2 linked regions of the Homo sapiens genome follow. The protein of the gene in region 2 interacts with the protein of the main gene of each other region in a pairwise test. Each region holds a gene or a part of one and is shown on either strand. Other genes may lie near its edges. The genes, in order: FLII and LRRFIP2.

Region 1 (15,583 bases), on a different chromosome or scaffold from region 2:
GGGGCCCGCACTCCTTGGTGCCTCCGCAGTCTTCGAACAGACGGGGAAACTGAGGCCCTAAGAGGCCTAAAGCCTACACTTCCCCGCGGAATGCGGCGGGCGCGGGCGGGTTAAAGGGGCGGGGCCGGCGCTGGCCCAGCCCGCGGCTCCCCCCAGCGCCCTCGCCCCGGCGCTCCCTAGCCCGGCGCGGCCCGGCAGCGAGAGCGGCGCCATGGAGGCCACCGGGGTGCTGCCGTTCGTGCGTGGCGTGGACCTCAGCGGCAACGACTTCAAGGTGAGCCGGGCCGGGCGCGTGCCGGGCCTCCCTGCAGGCCTTCTCTTCCGCCCGGCCCGCTTGGCCTCCGCTTCCTGTCCCGCTCGGCTCCAGGCCCTGCGTGTCCCAGGGACTGCGGCCGGGGCGGGGTGGGGCTCTCCCCTGGCCAGGAATGGACCTCCGAGGCCTCCGCCCAGTGCCTGTACGGGGAGACCGAGGCTGGGCAGGCCGGGGACGGACGCTTGGGCTCGGAGTCCCGCCGGGGGCCCGGCCGGGAGCCCCCACCCCGCGTCCGTGTTCTCGGTCTAGGCTGGATGGTGGCCTGGGGATCGGGCGAGCCTCCCCGCCCCTCTGAGGTCACACGCCCAAGCCAGGCCCTGACTCAGGGATGGCTGCCCGGCTGCCCAGGGGCGGGTGTGGAGCCGACTCATCACTGCCCTCTCCCCGCCACCGCCACCCGCCATACTGTGTGATCCTGGGCCTCTCAGATCACTTCCCCTCTCAGAGCCTAGGCTTTCTCAGCCGGTGAAGGGGCTTAAAAGTCTCCTCCTTGGACGCAAGGAGTATAGTGAGATTTGTTGGTGTGGAGAGTGTGTCAGGCCGGTGTGCCAGGTGCTGGGTGGCAGTTGTCTGAGCAGCTGCTGGACTGAGAGAAAAGGGACCGGAGCCCAGCCCTCCGCAGCCAGTGGGTGGGGCGGCGGGGTGGTTCCAGGACTCAAGAATGAGACAGGCATTGCCTGACCAAAGGGGAAGCAGAGAAAGAGAGGGAGGGAGAGCTGGCTGGAGGGTCAGCCTCACCTTCAGGGTGGGTGACTGGCAGGGTCGGCCTGGGTTGTTGGTCTGGGGCTGGGGCCGAGGAGGCAGGTTTTTCCTGCGTTTACCTGCCTGTGTACACACCTTTGACCCCAAGTACAAGTGGCTACACCACTTTTCCCTGACCCCATCCCCACCACCCTAACCTGGGGTCCCCGTTCCTCTTTGCTGAACTGGGAGAGTCCGAGTCACCAGCTGGGAATGTGGCGCTAGGGGGAAAGGAATATCAGCCGCAGGCACTGAAGGCACCTACTGCCCCAGACTTGGTGCCACAAGGGCTGGAGGTGCCGAGGTGGGCGTTCACACACCAGGGGAGTGCAGTGATGCTGGCCTGCCCTGCAGGGTGGGGAGCCACGGTCTCCGCAAGCAAGGGTTTGACCCTGGCCGTGAGTTGCCAGTGTGCTGATGGCAGGATGAGGGCACAGGTGGCGCCTTTGCAAAGGCTTGGAAGGGGGATCCCCCACCCCAGGCAGCCAGTCAGAGTGTGGAATGCTAGGTGAAGGAATTTGAGCCGAGCTAACCACAGAGCCGGATGCTGGGCTTTCACCTGAAACAAGCCAGTTTTGTCCTGGCCCTCCTGGGGCCCAGAATCCAGTAGGAGAGACAAATCTTAGGCCAACACTTTTGTCACGGGGGGGCTTAAAATTCCCATTCTATGGGTGAAGAAATTGAGGCACAATGATGAAATGACTTGTCTGTGTTCTCACAGATGGTGAGAGTTGGTTCTGTGGCTCCCCAAAGGCTCCCATGGGCTGGAGGAGCCATAGAAGGTGGTGAGCAGGGGCTCTGTGCTTCACCTTGACATCCTTCCCCCAGGGCGGCTACTTCCCTGAGAATGTCAAGGCCATGACCAGCCTGCGGTGGCTGAAGCTGAACCGCACTGGCCTCTGCTACCTGCCCGAGGAGCTGGCCGCCCTGCAGAAGCTGGTAAGGGGGTTTGGGCGGGCAGGGGAGGGTCCCTGTGGATGAGCCAGGTGGGCAGAGCCTGTGGAGAAGGCAGACAACTTCTCCAGAGAGAGGAACACCGACAGCTATGAGCAGAGCTGGAAGAAAGGGAGTGGGCACCCTGTCCAGGGAGGTGTGCAAGAAGAGGCCGGGTGAGTGAGGGAGGGAAGCTGCAGGGGTAGTTGGGCCAGTGTGGCTGAGGCCTTCCTGGATGGTGCAGAGTTGTGGAGGCAGGCAGGGACTCTGGACACCCCACCCACCCTGCTGAGCCTGTGCTCCCCATTCCGGCCCAGGAACACTTGTCTGTGAGCCACAACAACCTGACCACGCTTCATGGGGAGCTGTCCAGCCTGCCATCGCTGCGCGTGAGTGCTGGCCGGGAGGCCACCGAGCTTGGGGTTGGGGCCAAGGTCCGGTCAGGGACGTGAAGCCTGGGCTAGACACCAAGCTGGGCCAGCATTTCTGCCCACCTCCGTGTCAGGCTCAGAGGCTCAGGTGTCACAGAGGGGCCCTCTCATTAGAGGTTACAGCAGTGCCCTGTGTAAAGTAACCCATGTGGATCAGAGAATTCCATCAGGAAAAAGGTAAAGAAATCCAAAATCTTACCAGCCGTTATGGACAATAACTACAGTAATAATAGCCAAGACTGGCTGAGCAATGTTCCCACTATTCTGTTAGGATTTTTTCATATGCTCTAGCCCTCCACTAATGTTGCAGAAGAGAAACTTGGCCACCAAGGCAGATTACTTGCCCCAGGTCACAGAGCCAGGCAGTGGTAGAGCTGGTGTTGAGTGGGGTTTGGCCGGGAGCACCGTGTACCTTCTACCCAAGACTTGAACGTCCCAGAACATCAGGCCCTTGGCCAGACCCTGTAGGCCTCAACGAGGGCCATCCCATCTGAAGTCAGAGCCCTGGAGATGTTTAGGGCACAGCTTCTGACTTGGACTCTCTGAGTTCAAAGCTGGGCTTTGCCACTTCCTGGTGATGTGACTTTGTACAAATCGCTTCTACCTTCTGGGCCTCCTCTGCAAGTGCAGTGGTTGGGAGGGGCAGCAGTGACCCCGTGAAGCAGCAGCAGGGTGCCGCACAGGCATTCAGACTGGAGAAGTGGCGGGGCAGCTCCGGTGACTCCCGTTGTCACTTGGAGTCACGACACCATTCTCTGGCCCTGTTCCCTCATGCTCAAGCTTTCTGCATGTCTGTAAGGTATGAGGAGGTGTCAGTCTTAAGTTAGGGAGAGAAAGCAGACTTCCTCTCCATCCAGATTCTGATTTCTCTGTGGTCCACTTCTCTCCCTCTGTTCTGAAAACCCTGACTCAGACCTTACCCCTATCTCACCTTCTGGAATTAAGAAGAAGAGAAATGGTTTGAACAGAAAAGGTTCCCTGAGGGCCCTGTGCTGGGGCTCCGGGGCACATTTGAGCTGGGCTTTGAGGCATGAATAGGAGCTCACTGGGAGGCTAGGAAGAGCGCTCCAGGAGAGGGAGCTATTTGATCAAAGGCCAGAGGTGAGAGAGTCCTCAGGCCTGGCCTCTGGTGAGCTGCCTGAGGAGGTGTCCCTCTCTAGACTCTGTTCCTTCCTGAGAGTGGAAGCCAGGAATTATAGACTCTTATGGTTTATTCCCAGGCCATCGTGGCCCGAGCCAACAGTCTGAAGAATTCCGGAGTCCCCGATGACATCTTCAAGCTAGATGATCTCTCAGTCCTGGTCAGTGGCTACCCACTCACCTGGCCCCTGTGCTAGCCGGACCATTCAATCCCCACTCACTATAAAAGTCCCTGGGGCCATTGTTATCCCATTTTGCAGATGGGAAAACTGAGTCTTGGAGTGGATAATACCTTGCCTGAGGTCACTTTTGGAGTCAGATCCCTAACACAGGCACTCTTCCTCCCAAGTCCCTGGCTGTCTCCCTTTGGCCCTGAAGCCCCCTCATCTACCCCCACACCCAACTCAGTGCCCTGCCTGATCCCCAAGCTTGGCAGACGCCTGGTGGGGAGGAGACTCCCCTGACCTGGGTCTTGCCCCTTCTACCCAGGACTTGAGCCACAACCAGCTGACAGAGTGCCCGCGGGAGCTGGAGAACGCCAAGAACATGCTGGTGCTGAACCTCAGCCACAACAGGTGCCAGGCCAGTGGGGGGCAGGGGGCAGGTGGGCCCTGTGGGGTGGCTGGTGCTGACTCAGGTGGCTCCTGCTCCCCACCCGTAGCATCGACACCATCCCCAACCAGCTCTTCATCAACCTCACTGACCTACTATACCTGGACCTCAGCGAGAACCGCCTGGAGAGCCTGCCCCCGCAGATGCGCCGCCTGGTGCACCTGCAGACGCTCGTGCTCAATGGAAACCCCCTGCTGCATGCACAGCTCCGGTGGGCGCCCCCTCGGACCGCACTCCTGCAGAAGCCACCCTGAGGAGTCTGGCCGGGCCCCTTCACTTCCCAGGGCCCTAACCCTTCTCCCTTAGGCCCAGCCATCCCTCCGTGCAGGCAGCACCCCTCAGTGTACAACCTCCTAAGTATCATGTCCACCTCTCAGTCCTGTCTTCCCGCTTACACACCCCGCAACCACCCTTGGGCTTGTCCCTTCAACCAGATGTGACCTCACACCTACCCTCTGGGCCCTGTGCTTTTGGTCCTGCCCTGCCAAGCCCCACCCTTAACACTCCCTAGGTGGGCCCTGGCCCTGACCACTCACGTCACCCTGGCAGGCAGCTCCCAGCGATGACGGCCCTGCAGACCCTGCACCTGCGGAGCACCCAGCGCACCCAGAGCAACCTGCCCACCAGCCTGGAGGGTCTGAGCAACCTCGCAGGTCAGGCAGCCCCAGGAGCCCCTCTGAGCTCGGGCCCCCTCTGGGCCCTCTTGCTTCCTTGGGTGGAAGGGGTTGAACCCTGCTCTTCGGACCAATACCCAGAGGGAAAAGGCTGGAGTTATGTTACAGTGACTTTTGCGATTATGATGATGCCTTAACACTGACTTTATGCCTAGAAAACTCCCCCGCAACCCCCATGTGAGGGAGTTTGTCCAAATGGAGAAACTTGGGCGCACAGCAGTTGTCACTTGCCTAAGCCACACAGCTCAGAGGTGGCAGAGCTGGGGTTCACACTAGGGCTGGCTGCCCTGGCACCTGGTGTATGGGCCCCAGCTGATGCACCCCACCCTGCACCCCAGACGTGGATCTGTCCTGCAATGACCTGACACGGGTGCCCGAGTGTCTGTACACCCTCCCCAGCCTGCGCCGCCTCAACCTCAGCAGCAACCAGATCACGGAGCTGTCCCTGTGCATAGACCAGTGGGTGCACGTGGAAACTCTGAACCTGTCCCGAAATCAGCTCACCTCACTGCCCGTGCGTCTGAGGCCCTCAGTAGGGGGATGGGAGGAAGGCCGTGAGCCTGGCCCTGACCTCCCACCCCTGCCCGTTCCCCCTCCAGTCAGCCATTTGCAAGCTGAGCAAGCTGAAGAAGCTGTACCTGAATTCCAACAAGCTGGACTTTGACGGGCTGCCCTCAGGCATTGGCAAGCTCACCAACCTGGAAGAGTTCATGGCTGCCAACAACAACCTGGAGCTGGTCCCTGAAAGTCTCTGCAGGTGCTGGGCAGGGCTGGGGCTAGCAGAGGCACTTGCAGCACAGAGAACCCCGGGATCGTAGTCAGAGCCCACCTTGTGGTCTGTGCAAGTCAGACAAAATGAAGATGGGTTAATTCACCTTTTCTTTTCTTTTCTTTTCTTTTTTGTTTTTGAGACAGAGTCTCGCTCTGTCGCCTGGGCTGGAATGTAGTGGTGCAATCTCGGCTGACTGCAGCCTCTGTCTCCCAGGTTCAAGCGAATCTCCTGCCTCAGCCTCCTGAGTAGCTGGGATTATAGGCGTGCGCTACCACGCCCGGCTCTTTTTGTATTTTTAGTAGAGATGGGGTCTCACCATGTTGGCCAGGCTGGTCTTGAATGCCTGTCCTCAAATGATCAGCCTCCCAAAGTGCTGGGATTACAGGTGTGAGCCACCACGCCCGGCCCAGTTAACTCACCTTTGTGGATGAAGACCACAGTCCCATGCCAGCCATTCCCAACTTGAGCCCCTGAGAGCACCCTTCGGGGGGCACTGTTAGGGACAAGGCCACATGACGTGGGAACGCAGTGTTGCTTCTCTCCCCTTCTGGAGATCACAGTGCCCGTAACATGGTCTCTTGGCTCTGAGAAGTCCTTCAGGCAGAGAATGGAGACCCCCGCCAGTTCCTCTGACCCTACCTGCCTCCCCTCCCCAGGACTAGGGGTTTTCTTGCCCACTTCCCCTTGTCTGTCACCTGCCTGAGGCCCTGGCTGGCCCTGTCTTCACAGGTGCCCAAAGCTGAGGAAACTTGTCCTGAACAAGAACCACCTGGTGACCCTCCCAGAAGCCATCCATTTCCTGACGGAGATCGAGGTCAGGCATGCTGGGTTTGAGAGGGCTCAAGAGAGACAAGCAAGGGGTGTGCCCTGGAGCAAGGGGGACCCAGCAGAGGCCTCCTGAGGGAGGTGGCCAGTGCCAGGGTGCCCGTGGGGAGAAGGTGGGCCCCACCTCCCTGCATCCAGAGTACATTCCACAGTCTCATTTAAGCCCCCAGCCAGCCCCAGAGGTGGGTGGGAGGAGAACCCAGTTCCCTGACCTCTCAGCCCTGGCGGCTGCAGACAAGAGCAAGAAACTGGATTGGTGTGTCTGGGAGGTAGGACCCAGGCTCAGTGCCGGCTCTGCTCACCCTATGGGGCAGGTCCTGGATGTGCGGGAGAACCCCAACCTGGTCATGCCGCCCAAGCCCGCAGACCGTGCCGCTGAGTGGTACAACATCGACTTCTCGCTGCAGAACCAGCTGCGGCTAGCGGGTGCCTCTCCTGCTACCGTGGCTGCAGCTGCAGCTGGTGAGTGGGGAAAGGTCTGGCCTGGGAACGGGGGCTCCTCTCCAGGCCTCAAATGACACATCTGTAAATTGGGTGGCATACAGCTTTCTGGACCCTGGTGGGTGGAGTTGGCCCCTGGTTGGTCGCATGCCCAAGGGGGCAGCAGGCCCAGTGAGGGCTCAGCTGTTTGCCCCTCCCCTAAGCAGGGAGTGGGCCCAAGGACCCTATGGCTCGCAAGATGCGACTGCGGAGGCGCAAGGATTCAGCCCAGGATGACCAGGCCAAGCAGGTGCTGAAGGGCATGTCAGATGTTGCCCAGGAGAAGAACAAAAAGCAGGAGGTGAGCCAGGCCAGGGTTGGGACAAGGCAGGGAGCCTTAGCTTCTGCTGAAGGCCGACCCTGGCCTTGACCCTGGCCAAGAGGGACGGGGGGTGCTGGGCAGAAAGAACAGCTGTGCAAAGGCCCTGAGGTGTGGGTAGCAAGTAAAGACTGGCCTGAGTGGCTTCACAGAGTCAAGCCGTGCTCTGTGACTCTGCCCCCAGGAGAGCGCAGATGCCCGGGCCCCCAGCGGGAAGGTGCGGCGTTGGGACCAGGGCCTGGAGAAGCCCCGCCTTGACTACTCCGAGTTCTTCACGGAGGACGTGGGCCAGCTGCCCGGACTGACCATCTGGCAGATAGAGAACTTCGTGCCTGTGCTGGTGGAGGAAGCCTTCCACGGCAAGTTCTACGAGGCTGACTGCTACATTGTGCTCAAGGTGAGGGCTGGGCATGCTGTTAGGGGCCATGTGGCCCAGTACCTTCCTCTAAGATGGCTCAGTCCCCAACTCCAGAGTTTTGTTCAGGGAGGCCAGGTGGGAGGTGGGCAGGCTGCAGGAGGTGGTCCAGGCACAGGGGCAGTACAAAGCCCCTGGGGCTGGGAAGCCTGTGCTGTTCAGAGTGGCGTCTCCGGGGTGGCCGGAAGACCAGGATGAAAGCTGATGTGGCCGGTGCCTTGGCTTCCAGACCTTTCTGGATGACAGCGGCTCCCTCAACTGGGAGATCTACTACTGGATTGGCGGGGAGGCCACACTCGACAAGAAAGCTTGCTCTGCCATCCACGCTGTCAACTTGCGCAACTACCTGGGTGCTGAGTGCCGCACTGTCCGGGAGGAGATGGGCGATGAGAGCGAGGAGTTCCTGCAGGTGCCAGCCCGTTAAAATTGGGGGTGGGCAGAGTGGGGTTCCCAGGGAACTCTGGTGCAGGGGCAGTGGGCCCAAGGCAGGTAGGCAGAACAGGTGGGCAGGCAGGGAGCTGGGGTTAAAGGGGGTGGATCAACGATACTGTGCGGGACCTAAGGCAGACCGCAGGGTGAGGTCTAAGGTGGCCAAAGCCTGGGTCAGCAAAGGAGAGTTCTGGAACGCGGGGCAGAATTCAGCCGGGCAAGGATAAGGGTACAGGCTGGGCATGGGAGCTAGACCAGTGGGCTGACACAGGGGAGCTGAGAGTAGGGTGGAAGGGGTGTTGCCAAGAGCAGTGAGAAGGCAGGGCCAAAACCTGTTATTAGGAGGCAAGGACACACCTGGATGCCAAGGAGGTGGGGCCAAGGGCGGGACCAGAGTCCAGTCTTGAATAAATTACTGAGCAGTGTTAGCCGCCAGCTGGTTACACCTAGACATATGTTCGCATGTACACACACGTGGAGTTTATGCACACACCCCACCCGCCCCGAGTTTTTTTTACCCACATTCACCCAGGTTTCCACTCTTCCATGAACCCACTTGCTTGTGTACCCTGATATGCGTGCATCTAAACATGCTGCTGGCATCTTTACAAACGTGGGTGAACGTGTCCATATTTTTCATACATCCCAACACCCCGACGTGTGTATGTTTATAGACACAGATGTGTATGTTTTATTTTAGACAGACTCTCGCTTTGTTGCCCAGGCTGGAGTGCAGTGGCACAATCTTGGCTCACTGCAACCTCCGCCCCCAGGGTTCAAGCGATTCTCCTGCCTCAGCCTCCCAAGTAGCTGGGATTACAGGCATGTGCTACCACGCCTAGCTAATTTTTGTATTTTTTTAGTAGTGATGGGGTTTTGCCATGTTGGCCAGGCTGGTCTCGAACTCCTGACCTTAGGTGATCCACCCGCCTTGGCCTCCCAAAGTACTAAGATTACAGGCATGAGCCACCGTGCCCAGCCAGATCTGTTTTTTTTGTTGTTGTTTGTTTGTTTGTTTGTTTGTTTTAAGACAGAGTTTTGCTGTTGTTGCCCAGGCTGGAGTACAATGGCACAATCTCAGCTCACTGCAACCTCCGCCTCCCAGGTTCAAACAATTCTCCTGCCTCAGCCTCCCGAGTAGCTGGGATTACAGGCATGCACCACCACGCCTGGCTAATTTATGTATTTTTAGTAGAGACAGGGTTTCTCCATGTTGGTCAGGCTGGTCTCCAACTCCTGACCTCAGGTGATCCACCCACCTCAGACTCCTGAAGTGCTGGGATTACAGGCATCATAGATTTGTAGCACTCAATTCACCTGTATGCAACTCTGTACCCCCACCTGAGGGGCAGTGGTTGGTGGGGGAGGGGGCAGCTCAGTGATGAAGAACCACACCCTCACACACACAGGTGTTTGACAACGACATCTCCTACATTGAGGGTGGAACAGCCAGTGGCTTCTACACTGTGGAAGACACACACTATGTCACCAGGTGAGGGTGTGTGGGCAGTGGGGGGTATGGACCTGGAGTCTGCTGGCAAGGGGTGGAGGGGAGGGTGTTGGGGCTAAGTTAGGCCCTTGGTGCCTACACTGAGCCACTCTTGCCCTGCGCCCAGGATGTATCGTGTGTATGGGAAAAAGAACATCAAGTTGGAGCCTGTGCCCCTCAAGGGGACCTCTCTGGACCCAAGGTGAGCCCCAACAATGTGAGGTGGGGGTGCTTCATCCTCAGCCTCCTCCCCACCAGTGGGGGCAGGTGTGGGCCTCTTAGAAGAGGAGGCCCTCTAGCAATTCCTGCCCACGAGCTTGGCGGGGGGTCCCTGGGGCTTACCCAGAAACCCCATAGTGAGGGATTTTTTTTGGTGGGGTCAGGAGCATGGGGTGACCATTGCCCCATGCACCATCACAGCTCCTTCCTGCCCCTTCTTGTCCAGGTTTGTTTTCCTGCTGGACCGAGGGCTAGACATCTACGTATGGCGGGGGGCCCAGGCCACACTGAGCAGCACCACCAAGGCCAGGTACAAGGACACCGTGGGGTCTTTTGTGTGAAGGAAAGGGGTGTGAGCCTCGCTGATGACTTTGCATCCTGCTCTCAGGCTCTTTGCAGAGAAAATTAACAAGAATGAGCGGAAAGGGAAGGCTGAGATCACACTGCTGGTGCAGGGCCAGGAGCTCCCAGAGTTCTGGGAGGCACTGGGTGGGGAGCCCTCTGAGATCAAGAAGCACGTGCCTGAAGACTTCTGGCCGCCGCAGCCCAAGCTGTACAAGGTGAGCCCTGCTGCTGAGGCCCACCTTGGCCTCCCAAGTTCACCCACCGACTGGGGGAATGGACTACACACCGATGTAGTTGGCTTTGGGCTCCATCTCGACTTTGGTGGGGAGAGGGTGCCACCTTCTGGACAAGGAACAGTATGAGCAAAGGTCTGGAGGCTGCTTTTGAGAAGTAGCCTCACGGAGTCTTTCCAGGATGGTGGGGCCGTAGGGGAGACAGAAGCACCTAGTGCCAGGGCTGGGAACCTTGGCTCAATTATCTAGATTCTTGTGAACAGGAAAGGGACACGTTAATTAGAAATGGCATGAAGGGCCTGGAGAGGGCAGGCAGGGAAAACTCCATTTAAAAGCCCTTCTGAAAGGATATCCCTAAAAAGACCTTGAAGGGGAGGGGGAAACAGAAGCAGTCAGTGAGCCACGCTGCAGGGCAGGGCTGGTTCCAGAGCAGAGGGCTGTGTGGGTGAGGTTCCTGTCTCCAGATCCCTTCCCTGCCATGCTCATCCTTCCTGCCAGGTGGGCCTGGGCTTGGGCTACCTGGAGCTGCCACAGATCAACTACAAGCTCTCCGTGGAACATAAGCAGCGTCCCAAGGTGGAGCTGATGCCAAGAATGCGGCTGGTAAGAGATGCAGGAGGAGGGCGTGGGGCCAGATCCCTCCCCGTTGGCTGGGCTTTGACCTCCAGACTCCCGGTCCGCAGCTGCAGAGTCTGCTGGACACGCGCTGCGTGTACATTCTGGACTGTTGGTCCGACGTGTTCATCTGGCTCGGCCGCAAGTCCCCGCGCCTGGTGCGCGCTGCCGCCCTCAAGCTGGGTCAGGAGCTGTGCGGGATGCTGCACCGGCCACGCCATGCCACGGTCAGCCGCAGCCTCGAGGGCACCGAGGCGCAGGTGCGCTTGCAGCTTCGGAGGCCCCTCCCCAGGATCCTTCGCACCCTGACATGCCCTGACCCCTGTGGCTTCACTACCTCCCTACAGAGCTGGGCCCAAACCCACCTCCTCTTTGCTGACTCTGCCCAGGCCCCGCCCCCTCTGCAAGCTGCCCCTCCTATTCCTACCTCCGTGTCCGAGGCCCCGCCTCCCAAGCCCCGCCCTAGATCTCCCTTGGGTCCCGCCTCAAGCCTCGGGCTACTTCCTCCAACTCTAATCATGCCGCACCCCTCATGGTTAGTTGATGGCCTCCCTGGCAGGTGTTCAAGGCCAAGTTCAAGAATTGGGACGATGTGTTGACGGTGGACTACACACGCAATGCGGAGGCCGTGCTGCAGAGCCCGGGTCTCTCCGGGAAGGTGAAACGCGACGCCGAGAAGAAAGACCAGATGAAGGCTGACCTCACTGCGCTTTTCCTGCCGCGGCAGCCGCCCATGTCGCTGGCCGAGGTGGGGGCAGGGCCGGGACCGGGGCGCGGGGGGGGGGGTGGGGGGCAGGCCGAGGGCGGGGCCTATGCGCAGAGCGCGCTCAGACCTGCCGCGGGGCGGGTCCCTCTCACCTGCAGGCGGAGCAGCTGATGGAGGAGTGGAACGAAGACCTAGACGGCATGGAGGGTTTCGTGCTGGAGGGCAAGAAGTTTGCGCGGCTGCCGGAAGAGGAGTTTGGCCACTTCTACACGCAGGACTGCTACGTCTTCCTCTGCAGGTACCACCTCAGCACTCCCTTCCCCAAGTCCCTCCCCTGGTGCTGGGGGCTCGAGCCCCTGCTCACAACCTTCCAACCCGGCAGGTACTGGGTGCCTGTGGAGTACGAGGAGGAGGAAAAGAAGGAAGACAAGGAGGAGAAGGCCGAGGGCAAAGAAGGCGAGGAAGCAACCGCTGAGGCAGAGGAGAAGCAGCCAGAGGAGGACTTCCAGTGCATCGTGTACTTCTGGCAGGGCCGTGAAGCCTCCAATATGGGCTGGCTCACCTTCACCTTCAGCCTGCAAAAGAAGTTCGAGAGCCTCTTCCCTGGGAAGCTGGAGGTGTGCCTGGCAGCCCCGCGAGCCCGAGGCCAGGCGGAGGGGTGTGGTGGGGCTCAGACCCAGCGAAGGTTAGGCTCCCGAGGGGCAGGTGGGGGTCCAGGGAGCTGCCCCTAACACTTCCACATCCCCAGGTGGTACGCATGACGCAGCAGCAGGAGAACCCCAAGTTCCTGTCCCATTTCAAGAGGAAGTTCATCATCCACCGGGGCAAGAGGAAGGCGGTCCAGGGCGCCCAACAGCCCAGCCTCTACCAGATCCGCACCAACGGCAGCGCCCTCTGCACCCGGTGCCTGGCTGGGGGAGGACGCAGTGGCGAGCAAGCGTCAGGGAGCCAGGCCTGAATCCTTGCTGATGCCCCATCCCTTCCACAGGTGCATCCAGATCAACACCGACTCCAGCCTCCTCAACTCCGAGTTCTGCTTCATCCTCAAGGTGGGGTTGTGGGTGTGAGCCAGGACTCCGTGGACCAAGGGGTGGGGTGTTTGGGGGCTGAGTCAGCTGCGAACACCCCCACCCCTGCACACTCCCCAGGTTCCCTTTGAGAGTGAGGACAACCAGGGCATCGTGTATGCCTGGGTGGGCCGGGCATCAGACCCTGACGAAGCCAAGTTGGCAGAAGACATCCTGAACACCATGTTTGACACCTCCTACAGCAAGCAGGTCAGGAGGCGGGCGGGCAGGCGGGCACACACAGAGGAGCCAGGGCAGGCAGGGGCCCTGGGCTGGACTGGCCTTTCCCGCAGGTTATCAACGAAGGTGAGGAGCCTGAGAACTTCTTCTGGGTGGGCATTGGGGCACAGAAGCCCTATGATGACGATGCCGAGTACATGAAACACACACGTCTCTTCCGGTGAGGCCAGGGCCCTGACCCTCCCCTCAGTCCTGGCACTGCTGCTTATGACCTCTGGCCTCACCTTGACCCTTGATTCCCAGGTGCTCCAACGAGAAGGGCTACTTTGCAGTGACTGAGAAATGCTCCGACTTTTGCCAAGATGACCTGGCAGATGATGACATCATGTTGCTAGACAATGGCCAAGAGGTGTGATGTTGCCACTAGCCCTGCCCATCCAAGGAGGCGCCCATAGACTTACTTACAAATGGGAATTCTCGGGCCAGGAGCAAGGGGCTGTTCCCAGGCACCCATGCAACCGTATCTCCCCTGCTGCCCCCACAGGTCTACATGTGGGTGGGGACCCAGACTAGCCAGGTGGAGATCAAGCTGAGCCTGAAGGCCTGCCAGGTAATCTGGGTGGAGGGAGGGCCGAGGTGGGCCTGTGGGCAGGGCAGGGTCATCACCCAAGGCTCGCTGTCCCCTTGCCAGGTATATATCCAGCACATGCGGTCCAAGGAACATGAGCGGCCGCGCCGGCTGCGCCTGGTCCGCAAGGGCAATGAGCAGCACGCCTTTACCCGCTGCTTCCACGCCTGGAGCGCCTTCTGCAAGGCCCTGGCCTAAGACAGGCTGGCACAGCCCCAGGCTTGGTGAGGAAGAGGAAGGGGCCTCATCCACTGTCTGCTAGCAAAGAATGTACTCAGGTGACACCACCTGCTCCAGCCACGTCCAGTGCCACAGTCCCCAGTAGCCTCAAGCAGCACCAATGGGGATGACCCTGACAGGTGCCCTCAGGGGTCTGGGAAATCCAACTCTCTCCACAGTGTGAGTGCACGTGTGAAGCCCCCTCACTCTTCCGCTAGGGATAAAGCAGATGTGGATGCCCTTTAAGAGATATTAAATGCTTTTATTTTCAATATTAAAAATCAGTATTTTTAATATTAAAATGGCGCTAATTTTAACAAAACGACAGAAAAAAACCCCAAGGTACAATCTACAGGGAAACTCATCTTGACCCCCCCCCCTGCCCCCCCCCCCCGCCGGACACACACACCTGACTAGGCCCCAGATGTGGGTGCCCAGCAGAGCTCCCAGTCACATCCATGCCCGCACACACACACTCATGACAGGCTGGGGACTGGCCCAGAAGCAGGTACCAAAATAGTTTAGTTTTAGAAACAACTGTCCAGCCCAGGCGCTAGAAAAATACTCTTTGCAGGGCTGGGCATGGTGGCTCACGCCTGTAATCCCAGCACTTTGGGAGGCTGAGGTGGGTGGATCACGAGGTCAGGAGATCGAGACCATCCTGGCTAACATGGTGAAACCCCATCTCTACTAAAAATACAGAAAAAATTAGCTGGGCGTGGTGGTGGGCGCCTGTAGTCCCAGCTACTTGGGAGGCTGAGGCAGAAGAATGGCGGGAACCCAGAAGGCGGGGCTTGCAGTGAGCAGAGATGGGGCCACTGCACTCCAGCCTGGGCGACAGAGCAAGACTCCGTCTTTAAGAAAAAAAAAAAAAAGGAAAAATACTCTGCAAAGTGAGGGGGAAGGATGGTGTGTGGAGGGGGGGAGGTGGCACAGGTGCTGGGCCCCACCTGTCCTCTTCCCTAGGCAGTGGGCCCCCAGGGCAGCCAAATGCCTGCAGGAGGGCTCAGTTCTGGCCCAGGTCCCAGGCCCACACCCTGGGGCTGGTGCTGCTCCAGGGCCCAGGGTCAGGCGGGACAGGACAGCAGGTCCCAGTGGAGCCTACAGGTTAGCAGGCGTGGTTCTATGTTAAGGGGCCAGGCAGGTGCCAGGGATCCAGCACTCCAGCTCCGAGCAGGGCAGGTGGAGGTCGGGATAGTTCTGGCCTTCCTGGAAGAGGGAGAGAAGAGGTATCAGCAGAAGGTGAGGGAGGGCAAAAGGGCAGATGGATTGCCACAGCGGCCAGACCACACAGGTGCTGCCACTGTCTCCTCTGCAGGGCAGGCATGGCCCTTCAGTGACCACCTGAGATGGGCTTGCTGAGTCTCCAGATGGGTATCCAAGCGCCAGGCCACATATGCCCCACTGAGGCCAGGGAGAGGCACCAGACAAAGAGCTGGGAGGTGTCCATGTCCTGTGCAGGGTGAGGCTATGGCCTACAGTCAGGTGCCTGGGAACATGAGGCAGCAAATGCGCTGGGCAGATCTATGGGCCCCACATCTAGGTGAGGATCCACAGACTCAGGCAGGGGTAAGTCAGCCACTTGCTGGGCCCAACCGATGAGACCTGACCTCGTGCACCTCAGTGATCTCATCTATGAAACAGGCTGGCCAAACCAGCTCCCAAGCCCCAAACTACTGCCACCTCTAAGTGGTTTAATCTGGTCTTGTTGGCCGGGTGCGGTGGCTCACGCCTGTAATCCCAGGACTTAGGGAGGCCGAGGCGGGTGGATCATGAGGTCAGGAGATCGAGACCATCC
Region 2 (15,583 bases):
AGCTAGAAATTTTCATAAAGTAAAACCTATCACATACCTTTAATTTTTCCCTTTTCAACAAATATTTACTGAGAATTTGCAAGGCACTATTTATATAGCACTGTCACTGCCTTCTCAGTAGGCAAAAGAGAATACTGGGAAAATAAAAGTAAAGAGACCAGAGAGAAGGTACTCTGAAGCACAAAAGTTTTTATTTTGAAGAAGTCCAATTTATCCATTTTTTTCTTTTGTTGCTTCTTTTGATGTCATATCCAAGAAACCTACCTCAAGGCCATGAAGATTTATTTTTACATTTTCTTCTAAGAGTTTCAGTTTTACCTCTTATATTTAGGTCCATGATCCATTTTCAGTTCATTTTCATATATGGTATAAGACAGGGATCCAACTTCACACTTTTGCACATGGATATCTATTTGTCCCAGCATCATTTGTTGAAAAGACCATTGTTTCTCCCACTGAATTACCTTGCCACCCTTGTCAAAAATCAACTGACCATAAAAGTAAGGGTTTACTTTCTGGATACTTAATTCTATTTCATTGAGCTAAATGTCTATCCTATGCCAGTATCACACCATCTTGATTCACATAGCTTTGCAGTAAATTTTTTAATTGGAAAAAGTGAGTCCTCCAAATTTTTTGTTCTTTAACACTGTTTGGCTATTCTGGGCCCTTTACATTCCCATATAAATTTTAGAATGAGTTTGTTACTTTCTCTTTTTTGTTTTTTTTGACAGAGTCTCGCTGCTGGCCAGGTTGGAGTGCAGTGGTGCGATCTCAGCTCAGTGTAACCTCCTTCTCCCTGACTCAAGCAATTCTCCTACCTCAGCCTCCTGAATACCTGGGATTACAGGCATGTGCCACCACGCCTGGCTAATTTTTGTATTTTTAATAGAGATGGGGTTTCACCACGTTGGCCAGGCTGTTCTCAAACTCCTGACATCAGGTGATCCACCTGCCTCCACCTCCCAAAGTGCTGGGATTACAGGCGTGAGCCACTGCACCCAGCCTGAGTTTCTCAATTTCTGGAAGAAAAAAAAAAAAAAGGAAAGAAAAAGAAGGGGAGGAAAAAAAGGCAGCTGGGGTTTTGACACAAAAATTAGCCAGGTATAGTGGCTCACACCTGTAGTCCCAGCTACTTGCAGGGCTGAGGCAGGAGGATTGCTTGAGCCCAATGAGTAAGCCCTATGCGCAAAAAAAAAAAAAAAAAAAAAAAAAAAAAAATTCACTTAAAAGTCTTTAATTAAGTAGTTAGACCTCCAGGTCCCCTTTCCATTGCTAGGCTATTACCTCAGCTTCAACTTCATCTCCTATTCTCCAGGATACCAGAAGTTCTAGAAGACAAAGGGGCTCTGGGGAAGGGAAGGGTAAGCAATGGGAACAGGGAGGGAGTAGGAAGTGTGGGCTTAGGTGAAAGTATGCATTTTGAAATGTGGGACTGCTTCAGCCCCCTTTAAATCACCCATCCTGCTACCAAAATATATACCCCTTTTCGAGGGAGGTCAAAATTGACCAACCCCACCTACTTTCAAACCAAGAAGTCTGTGAAAACCCACTAACTCAGAAGAATAACTTAGTGAAAATAAACTACGCAGGGAGAAGAAAACTTCAAAAATAACCATCATTAATATCTTCAGAAAATTAAGGCAAATTATAGCCATGAAACAAGAACAAGGGGCTATTAAAATATTCAGAGAACAGGGTCGGGCGCAGTGTCTCACACCTGTAATCCCAACACTTTGGGAGGCTGACGCAGGCGGATCACCTGAGGTCAGGAGTTCAAGACCAGCCTGACCAACATGGTGAAACCCTATCTCTACTAAAAATACAAAATTAGCTGGGCGTGGTGGTACATGCCTGTAATCCCAGCTACTCAGGAGGCTGAGGCAGTAGAATCACTTTAACCCAGGAGGCAGAGGTTACAGTGAGCCGAGATCACGCCATTGCACTCAAGCCTGGGCAACAGGAGTGAAACTCTGTCTCAAAAAAAAAAAGAAAAAAAAATTCAGAGAATACAAGATCTTGGAAATTAAAACATGACAGTAGAAATTAAAAACACAACAGAAATAATCAATTCCACTCTATACTCAAGAGAATTGAAAACTTATGCCCACACAAAAACTTGTAACGGAATATTCACAGTAGCACTACTCCTAACAGCCAAAAGTGAAAACAATTCCAATGTCCATCAGCTGATGAATGGATAAGCAAATGCGGCATATCCATAAAATGGAATATTACCTAGCCATAAAAACAAATATATTGGGCCTGACATGATGGCTCACGCCTGTAATCCCAGCACTTTGGAAGGCCAAAGCAGGTGGATCACTTGAGGTCAAGAATTGGAGACCAGCCTGGTCAACATGGTGAAACCCCATCTACTAAAAAAAAAAAAAAAAAAAAGCAAAGATTAGCCAGGCACGGTGGGACACATCTGTAATCCCAGTTACTTGGAGGCTGAGGCATGAGAATCACTTGAACCCAGGAGGCAGAGGTTACAGTGAGCCAAGATCGCATCACTGCACTCCGTCCAGCCTGGGCAAAAAGCAAGACTGTTTCAAGAAAGAAAGAAAAAAAAAGGAATAAAGTATTGACTCGTGCTACATACAACAAGGTTGAATCATGAAAACATGAGAAGTGATAAAAGCCAGACACAAAGATTACATATTGAATAACTTCATTTATGTAAAATGTCCAGAATAGGTAAATCCATAGGGACAGAAAGTATAACAGACTAGTGCTTTCCACAAAGTCTCGGGTAAAGAGGAAATGGAGAGTGACTGCTATGGTATGAAGTTTCCTTGTAGGGGTAATGAAAACCTTCTGGAATTAGGGCTGATGGCTGCACAACTTTGTGACTACACTAAAAAACCACTGAAAAGGTCACTACTTTAAAGGGGTAAATTTTATGACACACGAGTAGTACCTCAATAAAAAAATTAGTTTTACAAAACTCAGGTTGGGAAATAAAGTTCAAGAAGTCTTACAGAAAACAGAAAAAAAAAAAAAAGAGAGAGAGGTAGAAAATAAGAAAGAAAAATATATAAGGTTAAAGTATCAGTCCATAGGGACTAACGTTCAAATAACTGGAGAAAGAGAAAACAGGCTGGGTGCGGTGGTTCATGTCTGTAATCCCAACATTTTGGGAGACCAAGGCAGGTGGATCCCTTGAGCTCAGGAGTTCGAGCCTGGACAACATGGCAAAACCTCCTCTCATCTCTATCAAAAACTACAAATATTAGCTAGGCGTGGTGGGGACTGAGGCAGGAGCATCGCTTGAGCCCAGGAGGTCGAGGTTGTAGTGAGTCATGTTGATGCTACTGTACTCCAGCCTGGGTGACAAAGTGAGACCCTGTCTCAAAAAAAAAAAAAAAAAAAAAAGAAGAGAGAGAGAGAGAAAACAAAAATAAATTATTAATAAAATAACTTCCCAGAAGTTAAGAACATGAGGTGCCAGACTAAAAGGGCCCAGAGTGTTCAACACAAGTCCTGAGTTCACACCAAGGTATATCTTAGTGAATTTTAAACAATGAGAACAAAGATGACTTTACAAGCTTCCACAGGGTAGGAAAGTCAGGCCACACATAAAAGATTAAGAATGGCTTCAAGACTTTCAAAAGTAATTCTGGAAACAAGAAGATGATAAGAGTGATGCCTTCAAACTCTTGAAGGAAAATTATAGACAATCTATAAGTAGCCTATACCAGTCAAATCCCTCTTTTTCATACTTGATTATTAAAGGCATTTTCAGACATGAAAGGTCTCAAAAATTTACCTCTTTTACACTCTTTGTCAATAAGCTACTAGAAGATAGGCTTCAGCAAGTAAAACTGAAAAACCAACAGAGAGGGAAACTTAGCATACAGGAAATAAATCAAACACAGAAGAGGGGCAAAAGGGAACCTCCAGAAGAATGATAGGTGTATCTCAGAAAGAAAGCTACAGATTGGAGCAATATGACTCAAGAGACATAATGAAGGACTGTCATTACCAAAATCCCCACAGCCTTTGGGGCACATCCATTTAACATGAGATGTGCCTGGTCCAGGTTTTCATTGGAATTTAGTTTGTCTTGACCCCGTGTTGATAAAGTTCCTGGAGCCTAGATGGGCTGAAGACTTATTTCACAGCACAGACATGTTTTGCTTTTCCTTATTCTTGAGAGCTAAAGCGTGATAAGCTTAGCTTAGAAGCAAAACCACATAGAGCAATCTACTCTCCCAATCACATTTCTTCTAGATATTTACCGTAGTATCTTGTAAACACTTTAGTTTTGCCAGATTCCCTGACTGTGGGGAGCCTGTGTTTCTCCAGACTCAATAACAAACTTTCCCAATGACTTATCCAAAAAAGATCAAGGAAGACTCTTTTCAGCTTATCTTCTGAGAGCTTTCATCTAATAGCAGCAGTATGTACCTTTCCTTTCACAGCCTCAGTTGATGCTTGCTATTCAGTTTTCCAAAACAAAATGATATATTTCTTAGGGATACATACCATGGCAGAGATTGGCTCATTGTTGACCAAGGCGTTTTCCCTTTCCTTCCTTGCAGTTAAGTGTAGCCATTTGACTCAGTTCTAGCCAGTGGAATGCGGACAAAACTGATGTATACCACATCCTGGCCTGGCCCATCAAACTTTCCATGCAATCTACCACAGTCCCTCTCTTTGTCCTCGCATCTGCCAGCCAGATGCAGGAAATTCAAAGTCTCTGAGGCCCCAGTGGGTGGCAGAATCACTAGCTGAAAGCAGCCTGAGTCCCTCAATGACTCTGTGGAACAGACCACCACTCTGTCACTGCTTTTCAACTCACAGCAAAGATGTGAGTGAGAAATAAATTTTGTGTTAAAAACCACTGATTTGGTAATTATTCATTAAAGTAGTTCAGCCTATCCTGACTAACAGACTTAGAGAGGTAGTAGAGCTTTTTGGTTTTTCAAAATTAAAAATTTTGGCCAAAAATACATGTATGGACATGGAGGATATTGCAGGCTTGAGCAGAGAATGGTCCCAAGAGAATGACTAATATGTTAAAATAGGCTTGTGATTTCCTGGAAGGGAGGGGGTGCCATTAAAGGATATCTTGAGGAAACTTCTAGGATAAATGTAACATGTAATTTCTTGACCTAGGTAGTGAGACCACAGGTGTTCATGTATTCTTCTTCCTAAAACTGTATTTTTGTTTTATATTTCTCTATAGTTCACAACTAATTTTATGCAAAATAAATTCGTTTTATAGCTTATAAATTGATGTTATAAGCTAGAATGGATGGATGGATAGATACATAGATAGATGAAGACTCTTGAAAAATCTGTTGGCGCATTTAGGGGGAAAGCAACAGGTAAACAGAAAATTATGTAAATGTAAAAGGCAAATTTTAACTCCCTGAAAAAACAAAGTTAAACAAGAAAGGAAACAAGTATGATATACCACATGGCTGATCAGTAAACAATATTTATTTCATTATAATGAAAACACCAACTATTGATTTAAAATTTCAAAATTGGAATGTTGCAGGGAGGGAAAGTGGGATGAAATAGTGAAGAAATACAAAATAACAATAAAACCACCAGTAAGTCCCACCATCCGAAGATACTCCTATTTTAATAACATTATTTTTTAAACAAAAATTGGTTAATATGGCAGGGCATGGCGGCTCATGCCTGTAATTCCAGCACTTTGGAAGGCTGAAGTGGGCAGATCACCTGAGGTCAGGAGTTCGAGATCAGCCTGACCAACATGGTGAAACCCATCTCTACTAAAAATACAAAAATTAGCCAGGCATGCATGGTGGCAGGCGCCTGTAATCTCAGCCACATGGGAGGCAGAGGCGGGAAAATTGCTTGAATGTGGGAGGCAGAGGTTGCAGTGAGCCAAGATCATGCCACTGCACTCCAGCCTGGATGACAGAAAAAGACTCCGTCTCAAAAAAAAAAAAAAAAGTTCCTAAAACATGCTATTTTGTAATCAGTTATGGTAGACAAATTCTAAGGTGGTTCCCCACCCTAATCGCCCTTCCTACTGTTCACACCTTTGTGTAATTACTTCCCCCATGAATGTAGGTGGGTCCTGTGACTTACTTCTAACCAACAGAATATGGCAAAGGTTATACAGGATGCTACTCCCATAACTATGTTACATTATATAAGACTGTCTTCCAGCCTGGTGCGGTGGCTGACGCCTGTAATCCCAGCACTTTGGGAGGCCGAGGCTGGCAGATCACGAGGTCGGGAGATCGAGACCATCCTGGCTAACATGGTGAAACCCCATCTCTACTAAAAATACAAAAAATTAGCCAGGCGTGGTGGTGAGCGCCTATAGTTCCAGCTACTTGGGAGGCTGAGGCAGGAGAATGGCGTGAACCTGGGAGGCGGAGCTTCCAGTGAGCCGAGACTGCACCACTGCACTCCAGCCTGGGTGACAGAGCGAGACTCTGTCTCAAAAAAAAAAACAAAAAAACAAAAAAAAATGAACTGTGCATGTGAGGGATCTAGGTTGTGCGTTCCTTATGAGAATCTAATGCCTGATGATCATCTGAGATGAAATGGTTTCATCCCGAAACCAACCCCCCCACCCACCCCACCCCCGTCCATGGAAAAATTGCTTTCCACAAAACTGAATCCTGGTGCCAAAAAGGTTGGGGACCACTGCCTTATACCATATAGAAAAGTTAACTCAGGGGTCAGGCATGGTGGCTAACGCCTATAATCCCAGCACTTTGGGAGGCCAAGGCAGGCGGATCACCTGAGGTCAAGAGTTCAAGACCAGCCTGACCAGTGAAACCCTGTCTCTACTAAAAATACAAAAATTAGCTGGGCGTGGTGGCAGGTGCCTGTAATCCCATCTACTCGGGAGGCTGAGGCCAGAGAATTGCTCGAACCCAGGAGGTGGTGGAGGTTGCAGTGAGCCCGAGATTACACCATTGCACTCTAGCCCGGGCAACAAGAGAGAAACTCTGTCACAAAAAAAAGAAAAGAAAAGAAAAGAAAAGAGAAAGAAAGAGAAAGAAAGAAAGAAAGAAAGAAAGAAAGAAAGAAAGAAAGAAAGAAAGAAAGAAAGAAAGAGAAAGAAAGAAAGAAGAAAAAACTCAAAATGGATCAAAGACCTAAACAAATGAGCTAAAACCATAAAACTCGTAGGAGAAAATATATGGGAAAAACTTCATGATATTGAATTTGGCAATGATTTCTTGGACATAATACCAAAAGCAGAAGCAACAAAAGAAAAGGTAAGTTGGATTTCATCAAAATTAAAAACTCTGGGCAGGGCGCGGTGGCTCACATCTGGAATCCCAGCACTTTGGAAGGCAGGCAGATCACGAGGTCAGGAGTTCAAGGCCAGCCTGGCCAACATGGTGAAAACCCGTCTCTACTAAAAATACAAAAATTAGCCAGGCATGGTGGCGCATGCCTGTAATCCCAGCTATTCAGGAGACTGAGGCAGGAGAATAGCTTGAACCCAGGAGGCGGAGGTTGCAGTGAGCCGAGATTGGGCCACTGCACTCCAGCCTGGGCAGAGCAAGACTCCATCTTAAAATAACATAACATAAAATAAAATAAAATAAAATAAAAACAAAACTGTGTACATCAAAGCACACTATCAAAAAGTAAAAAGGCAAACCACGGAATAAAAAAAAATTTGCAAATCACATAGCTGATAAAGGATTGATATAAAGAACTCCTACAACTAAGCAACAACAAAAACCCAATTAAAAAGATAAAAGACATAAGTAGACATTTCTTCAAAGAAGATACAAAAATGGTCACATGAAAAGATGCTCAGCCGGGCATGATGGCTCAACATACGTAATCCCAGCACTTTGGGAGGCTGAGGCAGGAGTATTGCTCGAGCCCAGGAGTTGGAGACCAGCCTGGACGTTGCTTGAACCCAGAGTTGGAGACCAGCCTGGGCAACATGTCTCTACAAAATATAAAAAAAAAGAGGCAAGGCACAGTGGCTCATGCCTGTAATCCCAGCACTTTGGGAGGCTGAGGTGGGCGGATCACCTGAGGTTGGGAGTTCGAGACCAGCCTGGTCAACATGGAGAAACCCCATCTCTACTGTAAATACAAAATTAGCTGGACATGGTGGCGCATGCCTGTAATCCCAGCTACTTGGGAGGCTGAGGCAGAATCGCTTCAACCTGGGAGGCAGAGGTTGCAGTGAGCAGAGATAGCGCCATTGCACTCCAGCCTGGGCAACAAGGGCGAAACTCTGTCTCAAAAAAAAAAGAAACAGAAGGAGAAAAGAAAATCAGCTGAACATGGTGGTACATGCCTGTGGTCCCAGCTACTGGAGAGGCTGAGGTGGGAGGATCATTTTAGCCCAGGAGGTCGAGGCTGCAGTGAGGCATGATTGTGACACTACACTCCAGCCTGGGTGCCAAAGCAAAATCTTGTCTCCAAAAAAAAAAAAAAAAGAAAGAAAGAAAGAAAAGAAGAGAAAAAGAAAAGATGCACAATGTCACCCATCACCAGGGAAATACAAATCAAAACCACAGTGAAATACCACCCTATTAGAGATTTTATTTTAAAAATAATCGATTTTTTTGTGTTAGAAAACAGGGCCAGGCACAAGCAGGCCGGGTGCAGTGGCTCACGCCTGTAATCCCAGCACTTTGGGAGGCCGAGGCGGGCAGATCACAAAGTCAGGAGTTCGAGACCAGCCTGGCCAATAGGGCGAAACCCCGTCTCTACTGAAAATACGAAAATTAGCCGGGCGTGGTGGCGGGTGCCCATAGTCCCAGCTACTTGGGAGGCTAAGGCAGGAGAATCGCTTAAACCCAGGAGGGAGAGGTTGCAGTGAGCCGAGATCGCGCCACTGCACTCTAGCCTAGGCAACAGAGCAACACTCTGTCTCAAAAAAAAAAAAAAGAAAGAAAGAAAAAAGAAAAAAAAAAGAAAACGGGACCAGGAACAATGGCTCACACCTGTAATCCCAGCACTTTGGGAGGCCAAGGCTGGCGGAGCTCAGGAGTTTGAGACCCTCCTGGGCTAATGGAGAGACCTCATCTCTACAAAATATACAAAAATTAGCCAGGCATGGCAGTGCACACCTGTACTCCCAGCTACTCGAGAGACTGAGGTGGGAAGGAACACTTAAGCCCGGGAGGTCAAGGCTACAGTGAGCTGTGGTCGGGCCATTGCATTCCAGTCTTGGTGACAGAGTGAGACCCTGGCTCAACATAAATAAAAATCAATCAATAAGAAAACAGAAAATAGTAAATGTTGGCAAGGATGTGGAGAAACTGGAACCCTTGTGCATTGCTGGTGGTAATGTAAAATGGTATAGCCACTGTGGAAAATAGTATGGTGGTTTCTCAAAATATTAAGCATAGAATTACCAAATGAAATTTGGTAATTATCAAATTACTAGCAATTCCACTTCTGGGTACATACACAAAAGAATTGAATGTGGCACTCAAACAGACATTTGCATACTCATATTCATGGTGGCACTATTCCCAAAAGCAGAAAGATGGAAACAACCCATCTATCAAAAGATGATTAAACAATATGGTATAAACATACGAAGGAATATTTTTCAGCCTTAAAACAAATGAAATTCTGATACATGCTATGACATGGATGAATCTTGAAGACATCATGCTAAGAGAAATGAGCCAGACACAAAGACAAATATTACATAATTCCATTTATACGAGGTACCTGGAGTACACAAATTCATAGAGTCAAAAAGTAGAACAATGGTTACCAAGGGCTATGGGCATGAGGTGATATTGTTTAATGGGCAGAGCTTGTTTAGGATGATGAAAAAGTTAGGGAGATGGATAGAGGTGATAGTTACACAATAATGTAAATGTACTTTATACCACCGAATTGTACACTTAAAAATGGTTTAAATGATAAATTTTAAGTTATGTACACAGTCATGTGCTGCATAAGGATGTTCCAGTCAACAATGGATTACACATATTACAGTGGTCCCATAAGATTATAATGGAGCTGTCCTATACACGTGTGCCCTTTTAAGAGATGGGGCCTCACTATGTTGCCCAGGCTGGAACGCAGTGCCTATTCATAGATGTGCTCATAGCACACTACAGCCTAGAACTCCTGATCTCAAGTGATCCTCCTACCTCAGCCTGAGTACCTGGAATTACAGGTGCACACCACCATGCCTGGCCTATTTTCTAATCTTTTATATCATATTTTAACTGTATCTTTTCTATGTTTAGATACACGAAAATTTACCACTGTGTTATAATTGTCTACAGTTATAGTATTCAGTACAGTGACATGCTGCACAAGTTTATGGCCCAGGAACCACAGACTATACCATATAGTCTAGGTGTGTAGTAGGCTATACTGTCCAGGTTAGTGTAAGTATACTCTATGATGTTTGCTTGACAAAATTACCTAATGATGCATTTCCCAGAACATATTCCTGTCATTAAGCAACAAATGACTGTATTTTACCATAATAAAAATATTTTTAAAAAAGGTCAACAGAGTAAATTTTATGTTATCTATATTGTACCACAATTTTAAAAACAAAACAAACTTTATTTGATTGCAAAGGATGAATCTGGCAAGACAAGAACAATGCCCTCTCATTTCCTTGACTGTTCACCTAGATACAGCATTATCTGTGACAAGGGAAAAAACATCTAATCTAAAGCTGAATTTTTTTCTACATTTAGTCCTATAATCCTTAGGTCACTTAACTGGGATACTCACTTTTTAAAAAAAGCAATGCTATATATTCAGTTTGTTCATGATTTAAGCCATTTAACAGGGAAATAAATATTTTAACATCCTAATCCTCTGCATACAGTACGGTATACTCTAACTTACAAAACAGAAAGCCAAAAGATTTCTTCTAGCTGTTAATATATTTCTACTTAGGAAAGTGGGCATGTAAGGAACAACATGCTCAGAACAGTAACATAAAAATTAAATTTGCTTCCCTAAAGCAGTAAAGATATCTGTTATATCAAAAGTAGTTAAAATGTGGTAATGAAGGAACACTAAGATATACAGGGTTCAAAATGAAAACAATGGAAAAAGATAATCCATGATTCTTTAATGAAGGTGTTTATATTCCACCTCTGAGAAAGCACCCTGGTATGTATTCCAAGGCTTTTCCCAGCTCTTTACCACTTTCTTTCACTGCTGCTTTTTATTTCTTTTCTTTTTCTTTTTTTTCCCGAGGAGGAAAGGAAGGCAGAGACAGAGAAGGGAAAATAAGATAATGGGAATAAACTGATAAGGAAGAAAGAAAAACTAGTTTATTTTTTCTCCTCACACTGAATCCTAAATACATTATCATCATCATCATTCTCATCATCATAAATGTGAACAGCTGCAAATAACTGAAGGCAAAGGAAAACTAAATTTCCTCCAGTCACAACCTAATCTAAAGCAAAAAAGTGGGGGTGGGGAGGTCCATCTGCAGGCTTGCATCTGTAAATTAAGTTTGTATGCTGAATTCTTCAAACAATCTTGACCGTAATACAAAGCTGCTGTTAAATATGGTGACATGAACCTTGGTCTAAGGGTGGAACACTAAGTTCTTTCAACAGCTTTCTAGCCTAAGAAGTGACATCAGTTAAAGAACTTTAAACCCAAGTGTTTCATTCACTAAGTATAAACAAATCAAGGTTTTCATAAGACACCACATAGTACAAACTAAGAGTTTAAAGATATAACTTCATGATACTATATAGTACCACAGGAAAAGCAGAATGAGAATTTGGGAAGAAGCTAATTTATCTATCTGAACTTAAAATAATCCTGTAGCATAGTCCATTATTCCAAGAGTCCTTTTGATCTTAACGACAAATACGAAGGTCTCTGAATTGGACTGCTATTTTAACTGGGGCCCTCCCTATGCCAGTAACAATAATGCTTTTTCCCTAATGTAAAACATTTGACCGATTCTTGGCAAACACTCTCATATAACCAGAAGATAACATCAATGCTGGCACAATCCTATGCTCTTTCTTGTGCACCTTTTTCTAAAAACTTTCCTCCTGGACGGGCGCAGTGGCTCATGCTTGTAATCCCAGCAATTTGGGAGGCCAAGGTGGGTGAACGATGTGAGCCCAGGAGTTAGAGACCAGCGTGGGCAACATGCGGACACCCCGTTTCTACAAAAAATACAAAAATTGGCCCTGTGTGATGATGTATGCATGTAGTCTCAGCTACTTGGGAGGCTGAGGTGGGAGAATCACCCGAGCCCAGGAAGTCGAGGCTGCAGTGATCTGTGTTCATACCACTGGACTCCAGCGTGGGCATCAGAGTGAGACCCTGTCTCAAAACAAACACACAAACAAACAAAACCTTTATTCCTTAGCTTTCCTTAATAAGAGGAAGAAGCAGGGGAGGAGGAGGTAGCACTAAAAACTTGGATCCTCGGATATACGGGCTAAGTAGTTGTTCACCCCAAAACCTAGCCTTAATCTTCTGAAGGCAAAATGTCCTTTATAACTCCCCCTTCTGTGCTTGCCACTGATCCTAAACCGCAGGCCTTCCTGACTTGCAAGAGGACCAGGCCAGATTATGGTTATGTGGTAGGTTCTGTCAGGCAAGCTTTGACAAGGTCTCAAAATAGACCCTGGGCACAAGCCAGGGAAGCTGCCACTCATGAGTTCCGACTTCATCAAACTATAGCCCTTCAGTATGTAATTTTTTTTTTTTCTCTCTAGTGTCTCTCTCATTTCAAAAAGGCAAAGAATCCTGAACCTCCTCCTGGCCACAAGTAACCTATATAACATCAAACCTAAGCCTCCTTTATTCTGTTTACAAAAACTTTGCAGAATAAAGATTGAATCTGTACCTCCTTCCTGCCTTGAGAAAGTAATCCATCAAATAGCACTCTAGTTTGCAAAAGGATTTTTGGATCTCAAACTCCATAGAGGTTTATTTTATTATGTATAGATTAGGATGTGGAAGGTAAAGGAAAAAAGGAGGTAGATTATTTACTTCTTTCCTGACTAATAATATAGTAGCCGACTTATGCAGGGCAAGAATTTAAACTATACACAATGCTTTTAATTGATACTGGTCATAAAATTCTGAAACAATCAACCTACTTAAGATGTAGCCATTTAACTATTATCAAATATAAATGCTTCTATATGACAGTACCAGTCTTCAAACCACAATATTTCTACTTTTACCAATACAAATAAAATTAATCACCTGACACTCAAATGTTTTTAAGTACCTTATAAAATAATTTGCAATATTTTTTAAATGGAGAGATGGATAAAGAATACAAAGTAATTAAGAGCTCCTTTCCCCTTCCACAAGCCCAAGAAATAAGTTAAATTCTATTATAAATAAAGCCAACATGGGATTGAAATAGTTTTAACTTTTCATAACTTCAGTCTCAATCTTACAGTCACACTTTGAAAATACATTCTGTATAGATACTAACTAATGCAAAGACTTATATATGTATTGTTCATTACAGCAGTGTTTGTAGAAGGCTAAAAACAACCTAAATATCTGTCAATAGAAAATGGTAAAATAAATTACGGAAAATGAATAAATTATGGTTCATCTACACTAGCAAGGCATGCGGTCTTTTTTAAAAAAGTAAGAAATATGTGCTAAATACAAAAAGATCTTCATATGCCAAAGATAAGAATGAAAGATACAATATATTTCTCCTAGACATATGTGATTGAATATGGTTGCTTGGATTGGGGGGTTGGGGTAAGGAAAGGCTGGGAGTTTGTGGTGGAAAGCAGACTTTCTTTTCATCATATACCACCTTTTAAAATGTTTTATCAATTTTTAAAAGTCCCATAAACATCTACTGAACCCATGAAATAAGCATTCTCCTTCTATAATGCCATTTCTTCCCCTTCCCTAATTATCTCTACTTTTATCTACTGCTCTCCCTACCACTAGGCTAAAACAAATGCATACATATGTTCCCTATGAAGTGGAATTATCTCTTGACCTCCCCATCAAAATAAATGAATAATGAACTAATGAAGAAGTATAACACATGATCAACCCAGTTTTTAGCCTAGTTGTTTGACTCCTTTGAAGTCCAGCATAATTTATTATAAGCCAAAAAGTTCACAAGGCAAGTTTTGTTCAATTCCTTCCTTCTGAAGTTTTAAAAGTTGAGTTTTATTGGCCGGGCGTGGTGGCTCATCCCTGTAATCCCAGCACTTTGGGAGGCCAAGGCGGGCAGATCACGAGGTCAGGAGATCGAAGCCATCCTGGCTAACAGGGTGAAACCCCGTCTCTACTAAAAAATAAAAAATAAAAAATTAGCTGGGCATGGTGGCGGGCGCCTGTAGTCAAAGCTACTGGGTAGGCTGAGGCAGGAGAATGGCATGAACCCAGAAGGCGGAGCTTGCAGTGAGCCGAGATTGCGCCACTGCACTCCAGCCTGGGCGACAGAGCGAGACTCCACCTAAAAAAAAAAAAAGTTGAGTTTCATTTATTTATTCTTGAGACAGGGTCTCACCCTGTCTCCCTGGCTGGAGTGCAGTGGTGTTTTCAGGGCTCACTGCAGAACTCATGTGGTCTTCCCATCTCAGCCTCACAAGCAGCTGGGACTGCAGGGACACACCACCAGCTAATTTTTTTGTAGAGACAGGGTCTCACTATGTTGCCCAGACTGGTCTTAAACTCCTGGGCTCAAGCAATCCTTCTGCCTTGGCTTCCAAAAGTTGAGTTTTAAATGATGATCACAGATTATATTCTTTATTTGCAGACTGAACAAAGTAGTACATTTTCCCTATTAAAGGACCATCTCTCAATTTAGATGTTCCACATAGAAAGCAACTACCTAAAAGGAAAAAGCTACGAAACAGCCTGTATTTTGCAGGTGCAATGGATGATGATCCTAAGATAAAGACAGAAGAATTTTATTTCCTTCTGAATGATCCTCATCAACATTCCCAGCACACTGCAAGAATTATTTTTTTCTATATATCATCAACTCTGTTGCTTCTCACACTAGGAACAGGGTAAACAATCCACAAAGAGTTCTTCAAGAAATTGCTCCCTCCCTCTTGCTAAATTCATTTCTAATAAAGATTTGTTTTTGTTTTGAGAGACAGAGATACTTTGCCAAATATATTCTCCATATTACCTTTTCCTTTCGTTAACGGAGATACTTAAATCCTGACCTAGGAAGGTTTCCCTTGCATATTTACCTATCAAGACTGTCAGTTACGGTGATTTCCAAAAGGGATTTTCCAAAAGGGAATCTGTGTTCACAGGGAACTGAAACTCTTAAGTCACTATTTAAATTAGCTGGACAAAAATCAAAAGCAACATTAGGGAACACTCTGAATATAATGGATATCCAAAGTAAAAAAAAGATGCCAAAATTTAGTGAAAGAAGTAAAGGAATTTAGTAAGCTAGACCAACAGGATAGACTTGCCATTATTTTTTAACTAAAGTTCTTTATAAATGAAAATCAAGGTAAAAATCAGCTGAACTCTAACAGAAGGAAAAGAAAAACAAGGGTAAGGGTATTAAGAACTCTGTGATTTCAACCTTATTTTACTTAACATTTTTAAAGTCAAAAATGAGCAAATTACATTTCAGCAATAAAAAGCTATTTCTAGTTTAAAGTGAATCCATTCCAAT

The links.
Region 1: the proteins of LRRFIP2 (region 2) and FLII interact in binary tests that used the Homo sapiens proteins (3 or more experiments, as listed by UniProt).

What each region holds. Positions count from the first base shown.
Region 1 is NC_000017.11:18,243,319-18,258,901, reverse strand, and holds FLII (protein flightless-1 homolog), read left to right. Parts: upstream 1-163; 5' UTR 164-211; coding exon 212-274; exon of another isoform or gene 275-425; coding exon of another isoform or gene 426-455; intron 456-1,882; coding exon 1,883-1,993; intron 1,994-2,304; coding exon 2,305-2,376; intron 2,377-3,638; coding exon 3,639-3,719; intron 3,720-4,047; coding exon 4,048-4,133; intron 4,134-4,219; coding exon 4,220-4,381; intron 4,382-4,719; coding exon 4,720-4,823; intron 4,824-5,182; coding exon 5,183-5,358; intron 5,359-5,443; coding exon 5,444-5,601; intron 5,602-6,345; coding exon 6,346-6,430; intron 6,431-6,755; coding exon 6,756-6,903; intron 6,904-7,085; coding exon 7,086-7,222; intron 7,223-7,424; coding exon 7,425-7,637; intron 7,638-7,884; coding exon 7,885-8,064; intron 8,065-9,493; coding exon 9,494-9,576; intron 9,577-9,700; coding exon 9,701-9,775; intron 9,776-10,018; coding exon 10,019-10,102; intron 10,103-10,180; coding exon 10,181-10,352; intron 10,353-10,868; and 25 more. Other genes in the region: LLGL1 (lethal(2) giant larvae protein homolog 1), read right to left, coding at 14,853-14,994. UniProt on the Homo sapiens protein: Is a regulator of actin polymerization, required for proper myofibril organization and regulation of the length of sarcomeric thin filaments. It also plays a role in the assembly of cardiomyocyte cell adhesion complexes.
Region 2 is NC_000003.12:37,158,800-37,174,382, forward strand, and holds part of LRRFIP2 (leucine-rich repeat flightless-interacting protein 2), read right to left. Parts: intron 14,228-15,583; exon of another isoform or gene 13,992-14,227; intron 1-13,991. UniProt on the Homo sapiens protein: May function as activator of the canonical Wnt signaling pathway, in association with DVL3, upstream of CTNNB1/beta-catenin.